Linked DNA regions of Homo sapiens. The protein of the gene in region 3 interacts with the protein of the main gene of each other region in a pairwise test. Each region holds a gene or a part of one and is shown on either strand. Other genes may lie near its edges.

What was found. The genes of interacting proteins can lie anywhere in the genome.
Region 1: the proteins of COPRS (region 3) and H4C12 interact in binary tests that used the Homo sapiens proteins (3 or more experiments, as listed by UniProt).
Region 2: the proteins of COPRS (region 3) and H4C4 interact in binary tests that used the Homo sapiens proteins (3 or more experiments, as listed by UniProt).

What each region holds. Positions count from the first base shown.
Region 1 is NC_000006.12:27,830,633-27,836,158, forward strand, and holds H4C12 (histone H4), read right to left. Parts: upstream 929-5,526; 5' UTR 896-928; coding exon 584-895; 3' UTR 542-583; downstream 1-541. UniProt on the Homo sapiens protein: Core component of nucleosome. Nucleosomes wrap and compact DNA into chromatin, limiting DNA accessibility to the cellular machineries which require DNA as a template.
Region 2 is NC_000006.12:26,188,169-26,193,187, reverse strand, and holds H4C4 (histone H4), read left to right. Parts: upstream 1-4,075; 5' UTR 4,076-4,111; coding exon 4,112-4,423; 3' UTR 4,424-4,478; downstream 4,479-5,019. UniProt on the Homo sapiens protein: Core component of nucleosome. Nucleosomes wrap and compact DNA into chromatin, limiting DNA accessibility to the cellular machineries which require DNA as a template.
Region 3 is NC_000017.11:31,851,371-31,856,287, forward strand, and holds the end of COPRS (coordinator of PRMT5 and differentiation stimulator), read right to left. Parts: intron 1,661-4,917; coding exon 1,442-1,660; intron 939-1,441; coding exon 769-938; 3' UTR 501-768; downstream 1-500. UniProt on the Homo sapiens protein: Histone-binding protein required for histone H4 methyltransferase activity of PRMT5.

The sequences.
Region 1 (5,526 bases), on a different chromosome or scaffold from region 3:
GTTGCATAATAAGTTCTTGCTATGTTCAGCAGTTGGATTCACAGCGCCAGAAACCTATAACTGCTTGACTTTCCTCCCCACTACACTGCGAAAATTGCCCCTTAAATGTAACTAACCCTAAAACCTCAACAGTATCGTGGCCAGGCGTGGTGGCTCACTACTGTAATACCAACATTAGGCATAGGCGAGGGGATTGAGGCCAGGATATCGAAACTAGCCTGGGAAACACACGGAGACCCGGTCTTTGGAAAAATAATTAGCCTTGCGTGGTGGTGGGCGCGAGGTTCCGGCTAATCGGGAGGCTACAGTGAGCCATGATGACACTGCACTACAGTCTGCGCGACGGCCCATGTCAGTAAGCTCTGGAGCACCTGAAACAAGTTGTGTTGGGTATTTTATTTACTGGAGAGCGATTAGTGACTGATGCCTACTTACAGCGACTAGAGACGCATGCTCCGATAGCAGCACAAACTCAGCAGGCGCGAACAAATGGTAAAGAGAAACTGGGCAAACAAGCATCACGGCTCCTCAGCTGAGAAAGTGGGGGCCCTAAAAAGGGCCTTTTGTTGATAGAAAGGGACGCTCAACCACCGAAACCGTAGAGGGTGCGGCCCTGGCGCTTGAGCGCGTAGACCACATCCATGGCGGTGACCGTCTTGCGCTTGGCGTGCTCTGTATAGGTCACGGCGTCCCGGATCACGTTCTCCAGGAACACCTTCAGCACCCCGCGAGTCTCCTCGTAGATGAGGCCGGAGATGCGCTTCACGCCGCCGCGGCGAGCAAGGCGCCGGATGGCCGGCTTGGTGATGCCCTGGATATTGTCGCGCAGTACTTTACGGTGGCGCTTAGCGCCGCCTTTGCCAAGACCCTTCCCGCCTTTGCCGCGGCCAGACATGACGAGCAAGAGGAGTCTCACCCAACGCTTTGTGAGGACTCTGGCCTGAGGCAGCGCCTTTATACGACAGTTGGCGGACCGAACTGAGAACCTGAAAGAAGTCGGCGGGAAGTCCCGCCCCGGTGGGGGAGGGGAAATCTAAAGGGCCAAACCGAAATAGGGGGAAAAAAAAAGCGAGCTTCTTGTTTCCGTGTTCTGAATTTTGTAACGTGCATAGTATTTTGTTACCACGTTATGAGGCTTTAAAAAATTGCTTTTGAACGCAGAAGATATACATCAATACTGTGGGAAATACAAGAAAGGACAAGAAATTAAGAAACTACAATGTTATCCCATCACACAGGCTAGTTAATCATGTATTTTGCAGAGCAGTTGCACATATTTTTCCAAGAAAATGTATACAGTGTTGTATATGGAGTTTTGTAACCTCCTTATATTGATTATAATTTAACCAATTTCTATTAAAGAGATAAAAGTGATGTTTTGGTGTCTATGTTTCTTAGGAATTATCAATAGTTATAATCAGTTCCCCAGCAATTTTTTAATCGGCTGTATTTTAAAAATAATGTTTTCCACATTCAACATAAATGTACTTTTTCTCTATACTTGGGACCAATATTGAAATTTATGATTTTATTACACCAAAATTTAAATTTTATTACATTAATATTTAAAATTGTATTAGAGGTCTCATGATTTGGTACTACGGGTCTCCGCATTATTTCCTTTCCAAATTTCCTAATCTGTTTCACCAAGGTTTCTGGACAACTTTAGAGACCTTTTGTGAAGTTTGAATAAAATCTCTTCGAGATTTTGATAATTGCATTAGCTTTAGGACTTAATTGGAATAGAATTAAAATCCTTAAAACAAGCTCTTATAACTAGAAAATTGGTGTTTGTAGGTTTTGTGTGTGGGGTTTTTTTTTTTTTTTGGAAGGAGTCTCGCTCTGTCGTCAGGCCGGAGGGCAGTGGTGCAATCTCGGCTCACTGCAACCTCCACCTCCCGGGTTCAAGCGATTCTCATGCCTCAACCTCCGGATTAGCGCGGACTACAGGCATGCGCCACCACGCCCAGCTAATTTTTTGTATTTTTAGTAAAGAACAAGTTTCACCATGTTGGACAGGATGCTCTTGATCTCTTGACATCGTGATCCGCCCGCCTCAGCCTCCCAAAGTGCTGGGATTACAGGCGTGAGCCGCTTCGCTTGGACGCTTGTAGGTTTTTAAAAAGACACTTTTATATGACCCAACTAAAGATTTGTTATCAACCATTATGGAGCAACTTTGATTCCGTATATTTGATTTTCTTTCTTATTAATAAATACAGGGTTATACTCTGAATTTTTTTTTTTTTTTTTTTTTTTGTGGAGACGGAGTCTCGCCCTTTCGCTCAGGCTGGAGTGCAATGGCCCAATCTTGGCTCACTGCAACCTCCACCTCCCGGGTTCAAGCGATTCTCCCACCTCAGCCTCCCCTGAGTAGCTGGGATTACAGGCACTCACCACCACGCCCGGCTAATTTTTTTGTATCTTTAGTAGAGACGGGGTTTCACCATGTTGGCCAGGCTAGTCTCCAACTCCCGACCTCGTGATCCATATGCCTCGGCCTCCCAATGTGCTGGGATTACAGGCTTGAGCCACTGCGCTCGGCCACTCTGAAATTATTTTAACATCAATGAAAATTATAAAACTCCTATAACTATTCTAATATAATCTCTTAGTATTCAATTCTTTGTTTAGAAAGTAGTTAAGAGTTGAAACTCTGGAAATAGAAAACTTTGGTTTTAGATTAAATGTTTACCTTTCAGACTCGAGCTGACTTGTTACCGATCAGACACGAGGTGACTTGTTTATTCTTTTTAAATCTTTGCTCATCTACAAAGTTAGAATAGGATAGTGACGGTACTGTTGGGGTGCAGAATGATTCCCCAAAATGTGGTTCTTGGGCATGCTGAGCGCTTTTGAACATTGAAAGGCCTCAGAAATAAGCTTCAGAATCAAAGCCCCTCTAACTTCGTCTTCTTTCCCATACATGCGAAGGGACTCTGACATTTCCTAATCGGACCAAGAAAATTTCTTACCAGAAGTAACAATTGCCTTCTATCCCCTCCCTGTTATTTCATTATTGCAGAAAAGAATACTGAATATGGATTTTTCAAGATAATGTCTGCCTCTCGGTCTCATTTAAATTACCAAGACATACTAGGTGCTGTGGCTCCTCCCACTAATCCCAGCACTGTGGGAGGTCGAGGCAGGTGGATCCCTTGAGCTCAGGAGTTCGAGACCAGCCTGGCCAACATGGCGAATCCCTGTCTCTACAAAATATACAAAAAATTAGCCAGGTGGTGTCACATGCCTGTAATCCCAGCTACTTGGGAGGCTGAGGCAGGAGAATCACTTGAACCTGGGAGGCGGAGGTTGCAGTGAGCCGAGATTGCACCATTGCACTCCAACCTGGGCAACAAGAGTGAAACTCTGTCTGAAAAAAAAAAAAATTAGCCAGTTGTAGTGGTGCATGCCTGTGGTCGCAGCTACTAGGGAGCCTGAGGTAGGAGGATCACTTGAATCCCAGAGGTGGAGGTTGCAGTGAGTGGAGACTGTGCCACTGCACTCCAGCCTGGGTGACAGCCTGGGAGACGGATTAAGACCCCATCTCAAAATAAATAAATAAATTATGAAGACAATCATTTACAAGCTAATTTCTTTCTGTGGCCCATTTATTTTCCATAACAAGCCTTTATTGCCCCTCAAAGGAATTGTCTACCTTTCCCATCTCCTCCTTCCCCTATGAAAAAAGTTACATAAGCTTCTGTACTCCTTTAGGGACTGGGGTAATCACTTTGTAATTCTCCCTCGTGCACATTATTAAATTTCTGTGCCATTTCTCCCATTATTCTGTCTTTTGTCAGTTGATTTTCTATGAAACTTCCCTTAGCCCCTACAGTATTTACCTCTTTGAGGTACTGTAAGAATTAATGGAGGCCAGTCTCAGTAGCCTGCCTGTAGTCCCAGCTACTCTGGAGGCTGAGGTGGGGGGATTGCATGTGTTCAGGAGTGGGAGGATTGTGCAAGCTCAGGAGTCAGAGATCAGCCTGGGCAACATCACAAGACCTTCATCTAAAAAATAAAAAAAATTAAAAAAATAAAACAATGGAGATAATGTATGTAAAATATTAAGCAGAAAGCCAACCTCTATTTAATATACGTAATTTTTTTCTTTACAACTAATTTACAAATATTTTGTTTATATTATACTTTAAATATGTTAATACATCAATTTATCTAATTATGTATAACACATTAAGTAGTTAATTTAAATAACAAATATTTATTTTTAGTACATATTGTCAATGTCGGGGCTCAGAAACCAATACCCCAAACTATGGCATGGTGACAAGCTGAACTGCAGAAGCCTCAAAGTCTCTTTGACCTTCTCCCACTCCCCAACCTTTGTCTTCCTGTTATCTGGACTCACCAAAAATGAGTCCCTGTAAGACGAATGTAATCACACCCGAACAGCTCATTTCACAAGATAAGGTACAAGTTTAATTTCTTTTCCCTGATCCATTCATTCTTCCTAGTAATCCCCTCAAATGAATTCCTCTTCTCCCTCCCTCAAACTGTTTTTCAAGGATGGTATATAAACTTCTGAACCACGTTCTGGGGTGGGCAATCACTGATTCTCCCCATGCACATTGTAAATTTGTCTGCCTTTTTTTCTATTAATCTACCTCATGTCTGATTTTTCAACAAACCTTCAGAGGGCATCAAATCAGTAAGGACATTCATTTAATTCAATATTTCACAGATGATATAATACCATGAAGTGATAAGGCACTATAAATGTTCCTAATTGCTCCTTGCCCCTTGGATCTCTCTGATCTTTAGGTTGCCTCCTCTAGTTTACTTACTGTGAAGCTACTCATTTAACAGCTCCTCCATTTTCCTTTACATGTGTATGTGGAATTATAAACAATGATATATCACACTTGTATATTTTATTTTGCTTAATACATAAGTTTGCATGTCAATGTTTTGATTATGAGTACATTGATTTGAGTTTGCATAAATAACACCCAAAATTATAATAATTATAAAGCAAAAGTTACTTTACAAGCTGTTTAGCTTAAAGAATTTTACTTCTGGAACTCACGAACTCTGAAAAATATTACTTAGCTAGCTTTCATGATTAAATGGTGGTTCTTGGGAGAAACAGAATCAATGGAATAATTTTATTATCAACTTCAATGATCATAACAGCATATTTTATTTAAAAACTTATTTTAATTTCAAAAATCTTACAGGCCTTCTATGGAGCTGTATCATTTACTCTATATTGAGAAACAATTATTGAAAATTTATACACATAAATAACACAGATGACATTTTAAAAGGGAACAAATGAATTAATTCATTGAAATCAGGATGGAGTCCTCAACATCAAATAATAAATTTTTTTAAACAATGTGATATTTATGATTTTTGTGATTGCTGTTTTATTCCAAGAAATACTAGTTGTATGTGATTGCAATCAAGACTTAAATCTAGGAAATAAAAATGTGTGAAGAGACTCAAAAATTAATGTATTTCAATGGACTGGAGATCCTGTAGAAATTCATTTTCATTAACATG
Region 2 (5,019 bases), on a different chromosome or scaffold from region 3:
TTGGTCTAATTATATTACCTTGCAGAGTATCTTTTTTCAGTTTTTTTCTTCTTTTTTTCTCTCTCCCCCACCCTGTTTTAAACTTCAAACTAATCTAATGACATACTTTGAAATTTTTATATTTTTCATTCCCCATCTCTCAAAATAGATGAGATCTCTCTCTGTTTTGAATTCTTACATTGATGTCTTTCTTTTTTTTCTCTTTTTGAGATGGACTCTCACTCCGTTGCCCAGCCTGGAGTGCAGTGGCGTGATCTTGGCTCACTGCAACCTCCGTCTCCCAGGTTCAAGCGATTCTTCTGCCTCAGCCTCCTGAGTAGCTAGGACTACAGGCGCGCGCCACCACGCCCAGCTAATTTTTGTATTTTTAGTAGACACTAGTGACAGGGTTTCACTGTATTGGCCAGGCTGATCTCTAACTCCTGACCCTGTGATGTGCCCGCCTCCGCCTCCCACAGTGCTGCAACTAGAGGCATGAGCCACGGCACCAGGCCCCCTACATCGATTTCGTAAAAGGCCATTATAATCTGTCTCGTATTATCTGCATACTTGTCCACTTTTAAATCTTCCTAGTAGTTTACAAACATCTAAAAGTACAGATTAGTATTATAGTACGGCATACAAATATTTATGTAAAAAAACTTGCAGAAATGCATATAGGGAATTGTGTGGAACCAGAACATAACTCAAGTGTCCTTAACTTTCCATTTCTTTATTTTGCCTTTATGGCTACTCCCCAAATGATTGTTTTCTGCAGCAGTATGCCCTGTGCAGTATTGTTGACATAGTAGTGCTTGACTCTTGTTTTTCATTTTAAACTGAATAACTAGGTGAGACATTATACACCACTGAGGATGCAGATCAATTATAAAATAGGTAACTTGCTCAAGTTTTCACCATTTAGCTCTGAGTGGCCCATACTATGCCTCTCCTTCTAAGAAGGATTTTATTTTATTTATTTACTTATTTATTTATTGAGATGGAGTCTCACTCTGTCGCCCAGGCTGGAGTGCAGTGGTGCAATCTTGGCTCACTGCAACCTCTGCCTTCCGGGTTCAAGTGATTCTTGTGCCTCAGCCTCCCATGTAGCTGGGATTACAAGAGCATGCCACCATGCCCAGCTAATGTTTGTATTTTTAGTAGTGTCAGGGTTTCTCCATGTTACCCAGGCTGCTCTTGAACTGGGCTCAAGTGATCCACCAGCCTTGGCTTCCCAAAGTGCTAGGATTACAGGCGTGAGCCACCGCACCCGGCCAGAATAATATTTATTTATTTATTTATTTTTGAGATGGAATTTCACTCGTCACCCAGGCTGGATTACAGTGACTTAATCTTGTCTCACTATAACTTCTGCCTCCCAGGTTCAAGCAATTCTCTTGCCTCAGTCTCCCAAGTAGCTGGGATTACAGGTATGCACCACCATTCCCAGCTAATTTTTGTATTTTTAGTAGAGACGCGGTTTCACCACGTTGCCAGGCTGGTCTCGACCTCTTGACCTCAGGTGATCCACCCACCTCGGCCTCCCAAAGTGCTGGGATGACAGGCATGAGCCACCATGCCCCGCGCAGAATAGTGGTTTTAAATGCATTAGATAATATATAGGAATGCAAAGTGAAACAATTATATTAGTATGCCATTATCAAATTATAAAAAATCTAAATTGGTGAAATATTAACATATGTGCTTTTAAATTTTTTATTTTATTTACTTACTGATTTTGAGACAGAGTCTCACTGTTGCCCAGGCTGGAGTGCAATGGTACGATCTTGGCTCAGTGCATCCTCTGCTTCTCAGGTTCAAGCGATTAGCTACCCAAGTAGCTGTGCGCCACCATGCCTGATAAATTTTTGCATTTTTAGTAGAGACATGGTTTTGCCATGTTGGCTAGACTGGTCTGGAACTCCTGGCCTCAAGTGATCCTCCCATCTGGGCCTTTCAAAGAGCTGGGAGTTACAGGCATAAGCCATGGCCTGGCATATGTCCTTTTTAAATTAATACATTAAATAATAATCTACCCATATGACTAAGACTTATTATAGTTTTGAAGGATTGAGGTTTTTTTTTGTTTTTTTGTTTTTTTTTTGAGATGGAGTCTTGCTGTTTTGCCCAGGCTGGAGTGCAGTGGCACGATCTCTGCTCACTGCAAGTTCCACCTCCCAGGTTCACGCCATTCTCCTGTCTCAACCTCCTGAGTAGCTGGGACTACAGGTGCCCGCCACCATGTCCGGCTAATTTTTTTGTATTTTTAGTAGAGATGGGGTTTCACTGTGTTAGCCAGGATTGTCTCCATCTCCTGACCTCGTGATCCTCCCGCCTTTGCCTCCCAAAGTGCTGGGATTACAGGCGTGAGCCACTGCACCCGGCTTTAGGATTGAGATTTTTAAATGAAATTTCGAGATATTGGCAATGAGAATGTGATATAAATAGAAGCACTTGTCCTGCCAATTACACTGTTTGTTGCCTGAGTTCATACACAGAAAAAATGCTGTTTCTGTTGGAGAATAGTAAAAAGAAAAAAAAAAGATTTGACTTTTTTTTTTTCTATACTCATTCCCAGATCCCCTGAAGACTTTCTATGTATCCCAGGCTAAGAACCTTACTCTGCAATCTTTTCCATGTACCATAAACTCAATAAACAGCAAACAGCTGTGATAAACTTGGTTCTTCTCACAAGTCATGAAGGAAAAGCCAAATATTCCACCCAAAGGACCTGGAACTTTTTATGGGGATTAATGATGAGTTAAGTTTTTAATTATTTATTATTTTGAGGAGTTCTCGAAATCAGATTTTAGCAAATTAGAATACTGTCTCTCATCCCTTTAGAAGGGTGAACCTTAAGGATAGGAATTGAAAACACCCACAATATTGTACTATACCATAATTAATGTTTAGTCATTGCTTATTTGGAATCTAGACACTATTCTAAGCATTTTGATAGGATTATCTGTTTCAACTTAACAAATACTTACAAGTTAGATTTTTAAAAATACATTTACAACAAGGAAACTTAGTATAGCTTGCCCAGGGTCACCCCCACAGCATGTATGTCAAGCAGGCTGTCTCTATGATAGTTTGGAGGGATACTATGATGCCAATTTGCTGGAGTAATAGAATATGGTGAATGATGCAGTGCTAGCTACAATCTGTCCATGATTAAAGGCACAATCAAAGCATAAATTTTCATAAATTTCAGCCCAACAAGGTTTTCTTTTACGGGTGTACATAGTCATGTTTTCAATCGGCCCTCGGTGATCTTATCCTAATTTGACCTCTAAATGTGTAACTTTCATATACTTTTAGTTCCCTCAGTAGCACTATCTAGCCTGCATGCCAAAGAGCCCTGCTTGGTTAACTAGGAATGCATAAATCAATAAAAATAATCTCAGAGACAATAAAGATATGAGTTACTTAAAATACTTTGAAAGCACCTTATGGCCCGGCGCGGTGGCTCACGCCTGTAATCCTAGCACTTTGGGAGGCCGAGGCAGGTGGATCACAAGGTCAGGAGTTCGAGACCATCCTGGCCTATGGTGAAACCCCGTCTCTACTAAAAAAATACCAAAATTAGCTGGGCATGGTGGCGGGCGCCTGTAACCCCAGCTACTCGGGAGGCTGAGGCAGGAGAATTGCTTGAATCCGGGAGGCAGAGGATGCAGTGAGCCTAGATCGTGCCACTGCATTCCAGCCTGGGCAACAGAGCAAGAACCCGTCTCAAAAAAAAAAAAAAAAAAAAAAAAAAAAAGCACCCTGTGAGGGAAACAGTACTAATTATTTGATATTCTGGGAAAAGTGGGGGACAATTGTCAGGCTTCTTTGTCGAAAGTTTATGAACTGATGGCTCAGTTAATGGCTGCAAGTATAGTGTGTGTGTATATATATATATATACCTAGCAGTATTTATTAAATCCCAGCTGAGGCTCTTTTGTTGCCTCAGGCCCCTCTTGGTCTCCTCCAGTCTGAGCAAGGGAGAATTGCACAGAAGGGCGGGAACTGACTGTGGTTCCCGCCCCTTCTCATGAGGTTTTCAAACAGGTCCGTCATGCTATTATAAAAGTGCTGCGTGGCTCTGCCAGACGTATTGCGTTACAGATTTAACAGCTGTGGTTTCAAGATGTCTGGCCGCGGTAAGGGCGGAAAGGGTCTAGGTAAGGGTGGCGCCAAGCGTCACCGTAAGGTATTGCGTGACAATATCCAAGGAATCACCAAGCCCGCTATCCGCCGCCTGGCTCGCCGCGGCGGCGTCAAGCGTATTTCTGGCCTCATTTATGAGGAAACTCGCGGAGTGCTGAAAGTTTTCCTGGAAAATGTAATCCGCGATGCTGTCACCTACACGGAACACGCCAAACGCAAGACAGTCACAGCCATGGACGTGGTGTACGCGCTCAAGCGCCAGGGACGCACTCTTTATGGCTTCGGCGGCTGAGCTTACCTCTACAGTACACTACCGCAAAACCAACGGCCCTTTTCAGGGCCACCTATCCACTCAGGAGAAAGAGTAGTAGTCACTGCTAAAAGTGTAGTTTCACGTGTTTAGTAGCTCCGGTTTTCAAGTTAAATGGTCTTATTACGCCTTGGCTTCATATCTTACTGGCCGGTGAGGATAGTGTATTAAAGTTTATTTTCACTCTTGCTGTGTCGCCCATGCTGGAGTAATCAATGGCGCGATCTCGGCAATCTGCAGTCTCCGCCTCCCGGGTTCAAACGATTCTTGTGCCTCAGCCTCTTGCGTAGCTGGGGCAACCGGCTTGCGCCACCAACACCCGGCTAATCTTTGTATTTTTTGCAGCGATGGGTTTTCGCCATGTTTCCCAGGCTGGTCTTGAACTCAAGCTCAAAAGAGATTTCCCTCCTCCGCCTCCGAAAGTGCTGGGATTACAGGCGTGAGCCACCACGCTTGGCCTGTGTTTTCTGTATTTCTGTAAGGAAACATGGCAAACTGCTGCTAACATTCTTCATGGCTATCAGAGAAACAAGGTAGCAAAGACTGTAGCTGCTGGAGAAACAAGGTAGCAAAACCTG
Region 3 (4,917 bases):
AACAGGAAAACAATCAGCTACAAAATCACCAGTGTCTCCTGGATTCCAATCCTTGGTCAACAGTGCTAGATCTACAGAAGCAAAACTAAAATTTTTTTTCTTTCACAGAGTAGTTTTAAGCCTCCAAGCGTTTGAATCTTTAAAATGTCATTCAGGGACTTTAAATGAAGTAGTGAAGGCTGGGCACGGTGGCTCACACCTGTAATCCCAGCACTTTGGGAGGCCAAGGCGGGTGGATTACTTGAGGCCAGGAATTTGAGAACAGCCTGGCCAACGTGGTGAAACCCCATCTCTACTAAAAATACAAAAAATTAGCCGGGTGTGGTGGCGAGCACCTATAGTCCCAGCTACTCAGGAGGCTGAGGCACAAAAATCGCTTAAACCCAGGAGGTGGAGGTTCCAACGAGCCAAGTTCGCGCTGCTGCACTCCAGCCTGCGTGACACAGTGAGACTGTCTCCATAAATAAATAAATGGGAAAAAAGCAGACGAAGCATACTGGTTTCTCTTTTTAACCTTTATTTACAAAGAACACAACTCCTCTTGACACAAACACACACACATTTCAAGGAGGAGCCCATTAAGAACAACAACAGACTGGCGAGAATGACGGGGCCTTATTGAACACTGTCAATAAGGAACACTGGTCTGTGTACCCCAGACTAGGGGTCACTGCAAACATTTTCTCAGATATGACTTTTCACCTCCAAGACAGGAAAAGAGATCTTGACGTGGAGGCCCGCCCACCTACAAGGCAGAAAGCTCCACACTCAATCTTCAGCATCGTCAAACTGTCCTGTTTCAAAGACCATCTTGGAATAATAGGGTATCAGTGGAGGCGGATGGTGCCAGCTGGGGTCATAGATCATGTCTCCTTGTGGGGCACAGCACACCCAAGGTTTAAGCTCTTGAGAAATGCTCTCCTGGATGTCGTCAGCATCTGCAGGCAGTTTTAAAAGACAGATTAAGGGAAGGAAGGAGGGAAGGAAGGAAGGTAAAAACGGACAGCCAAAAAGGTATGTCTAGGGGACAGATCCTTGCACTTATTTTGTTTAAAAACACACACAGTTCTCCTTTCCTGAAGAATTGTAAATGCGTTCATTCGGAACAGCTGAGAAGCTATGCTTCTCAGACAAGGGTTCTTAGCAGTGAAGAAGCAAACTGGATAACACAGCACTTCTATCTGCAGCTGCTCAATTCATAGCAGAGATTTTTGGAGAGAGTAACAGTTTTGACTTTAAAACAGTGATACATTATGGAGTCAAATGCAAAATTTGGATTTTTTCAATATAAAAGAGAAGGTGTCACAGAAATTGGAGACCTGTAACAGATACCAGCCTAAGCTCATAGATGTGGACCCCTGTTCCAAACTGCCTTCAGGGCTGGTCTGACAGGTGTGTCTGAGAAGGCCTAGTTCAGGACCCCCAGAGACTCCACACCTACCATATGGATTCCCTTGATCTGCTTTCAACTCCGAGTCCCAGTCCTCATTAAAAAGATCGCCAGGCTGTTCCTTGGGTGGACAGTTTGTCCCTTCTGACAGCTCCCAGGTATTCAGTTCTCCATCAGAGTCCTCCTCATCCATGGCAAAGCCTTCCTCTTCAGAATGGGTGCCCTCACCCCGGGCAGGACTGTCATTAGGAATGCTCTGTGTTCCACGGGCTAAATTGACAAAGAGAAGATGGCCTTAGTGACAAACCAAAGAGGACCTGCTCTGTGCTCAGTAAATTTTGGGCAGACTTACTACGAAGGTAGTAAAACAAGTGCACAGAGTCTTCTTTAGCCACCGAGCACTTTTTTAAAAATGCACTTCTTTGTATGTTTTTAAAAGAGCTGATAATTTATTTTCAATAAGACGTTTTGTCTTATACAAGGCATTAATTGTCAGGTCCTTTAATTTACAAAGAGGGCTAGGGACAGTTAACATTTTCAGGTGGTTTGTATGTCACTGAGGCAAAGGGCCTCTGATAAATAATACACTTTCACAATACAAGCCTGAATTAAGTTTTTGCTCTTTTTTTTTTTTTTTTGAGACAGAGTCTCGCTCTGTCGCCCAGGCTGGAATGCAATGGCACCATCTCGGCTCACTGCAACCTCTACCTCCCAGGTTCAAGCAATTCTCTGCCTCAGCCTCCTGAGCAGCTGGGATTACAAGCGCCCGCCACCACGCCCAGCTAATTTTTTTGTATTTTTAGTAGAGACGGGGTTTCACCATCTTGGCCAGGCTGGTCTTGAACCCCTGACCTTGTGATCCACCCGCCTCGGCCTCCCAAAGTGCTGGGATTACAGGCGTAAGCCACTGTGCCCGGTTGTTTTTGCTCTTTTATTCCTCCCTTCAGCCTCAAAGAGCATGTTAGAGGTGAGCACAGGGACAAAGGGGAGCAGGGGCACTGCAGGCAGAAGACCAGAACCCATCTAATCACAATGGGCAGCACCTAGTGCCTCCCTCTGACATCAGGGAGGCCGGAAGGTACATTTTCAAAAGGCCTCACAATAACGGAGGAAAGACTGGGGAAAGATAATGGATTTCCGAGCACATAGTGCTTTGGTGATGCCAGGTCCCAGGAGAGAAGGCAATCAGCCTAAAACAGCCATGCTCTTAATACTGGAACAACAGTAACAGTGATAAGCAATAAAGTGATAGTTCAGAGCAAGGGGTCTAAAGCCAGACTGTCTGATTTCAAATCCGTGTTTTGTCAATTACCAAACATCGGACTGGGCCGGGCACGGTAGCTCACCCTTGTAAACCTAGCACTTTGGGAGGCCAAGGTGGGTGGACTGCTTGAGCTCAGGAGTTCAAGGCCAGCCTGAACAATGTCGCAAACCCTGTCTCTACAAAAAATTCAAAAAATTTAGCTGGGTGCAGTGGCATGCACCTGTAATCCCAGCTACTCAAGAGGCTGAGGTGGGAGGATCGCTTGAACCTGGGAGGTGGAGGCTGCAGTGAGCCAAGATCGTGCCATTGCACAGAGTGAGACCCTGTCTCCAAAAAAAAAAAAAAAAAAAAAAAAAAAAGTGTGATTGAGCTGAAATTTACTTAACTAGTTCCATAACATAAATATAGAATTACCATATGACCCAGCAATCCCAGTCCTAAACATATACCCAAAAGAACTGAAAACAGCTGTTCAAATAAAACAAGGATACTCACAGCAGCACTATTTACAATCACCAAAAGGTAGACACAACATCAAATGTCCATCAATGGATGAATGGAAAAACAAAATGTGGTATATGCATATGATGGAATTATTCAGCCATAAAAAGGAATGCAGTGCTGATACATGCTACGGCATGGATGCACCTTGAAAATACGCTAAGTGGAAGAAGCCAGACACAAAAGGCCACATATTGTTATGATTCCCTTTACAGGCAACTCACATTTGCCTATCCAGAACAGATAAACCCACAGAGACAGAAAGCAAATTAGTGGTTGCCAAGAGCTCAGAGAAGGAAGGAATGGAGAATGACTACTTGGTGAGCACAGGGTTTCCTTTTAGGGTGATGAAAAGATTCTGGAACTAGGTAGTGGTGATGGTTGCACAACACTGCCATTGTGCTAAAAGGCTACTGAATTATATGCGTTAAAATGGTTACATGGTAAATTTAGGTTATGCATCTTTTACCACAATTTTTAAATTGTTTTTATTTAACTGTTCTGTGCCTCAACTTCCACATCTGTAAAATGAAGATAGGGTTGTTGTGAGAGTTAAAAGAAAAAAAAAGGCCAGGCACGGTGGCTCATGCCTGTAATCCCAGCACTTTGGGAGGCCGAGGTGGGCGGATCACCTGAGGTCAGGAGTTTGAGACCAGCCTGGCCAACATGGTGAAAGCCCCTCTCCACTAAAAATACAAAAATTAGGCCGGGAGCAGTGGCTCACGCCTGTAATCCCAGCACTTTGGGTGGCCAAGGAGGGCAGATCACGAGGTCAGGAGATCGAGACCATCCTAACAAGGTAAAATCCTATCTCTACTAAAAACACAAAAAATTAGCCAGGCGTGGTGGCGGGTGCCTGTGGTCCCAGCTACTCGGGAGGCTGAGGCAGGAGAATGGTGTGAACCCAGGGGGCAGAGTTTGCAGTGAGCCGAGATAGTGCCACTGCCTGGGAGACAGAGCGAGACTCCGTCTCAAAAAATAAATAAATAAATAAATAAATAAATACAAAAATTAGCCAGGCGATATGGTGCACGCCTGTAATCCCAGCTACTCAGGAGGCTGAGGCACGAGAATCACTTGAACCCGGGAGACAGAGGTTGCAGTGAGCCAAGATTGCGACACTGCACTCCAGCCTGGGTGACAGAGTGAGACTCCATCTCAAAAAAAAAAAAGAAAAAGAAAAAAAGGGGCCAAGCGTGGTAGCTCACACCTGTAATCCCAGCACTCTGAGAGGCTGAGGCAGATGGATCAGGTGAGGTCAGGAGTTCGAGACCAGCCTGGCTAACATGGTGAAACCCCATCTCTACTAAAAATACAAAAATTAGCTGGGCATGGTGGCATATGCCTGTAATCCAGCTACTTGGGAGGCTGAGGTAGGAGAATGCTTGAATCCAGGAGGCAGAGGTTGCAGTGAGCCAAGATTGTGCCATTGCACTCCAGCCTGGGCAACAAGAGCAAAACTCCCTCTCAAAAAAAAAAAAAAACGGCAGGGGGCTGGGCACAGTGGCTCATGCCTTTGTAATCCCAGCACTTTGGGAGCGTGGGCTCACAGTAATCCCAGCACTTTGGGAGGCCTAGGTGGGCAGATCACTTGAGATCAGGAGTTCGAGACCAGCCTGGCCAACATAGTAAAACCCCATAGCTACTAAAAATACAAAAGTTAGCTGGGTGTGGTGGCGCGTGCCTGTAGTTCCAGCTACTCGGGAGGCTGAGGCAGGAGAATTGCTTTAACCTGGGAAGCGGAGGTTGCGGTGAGCTGACA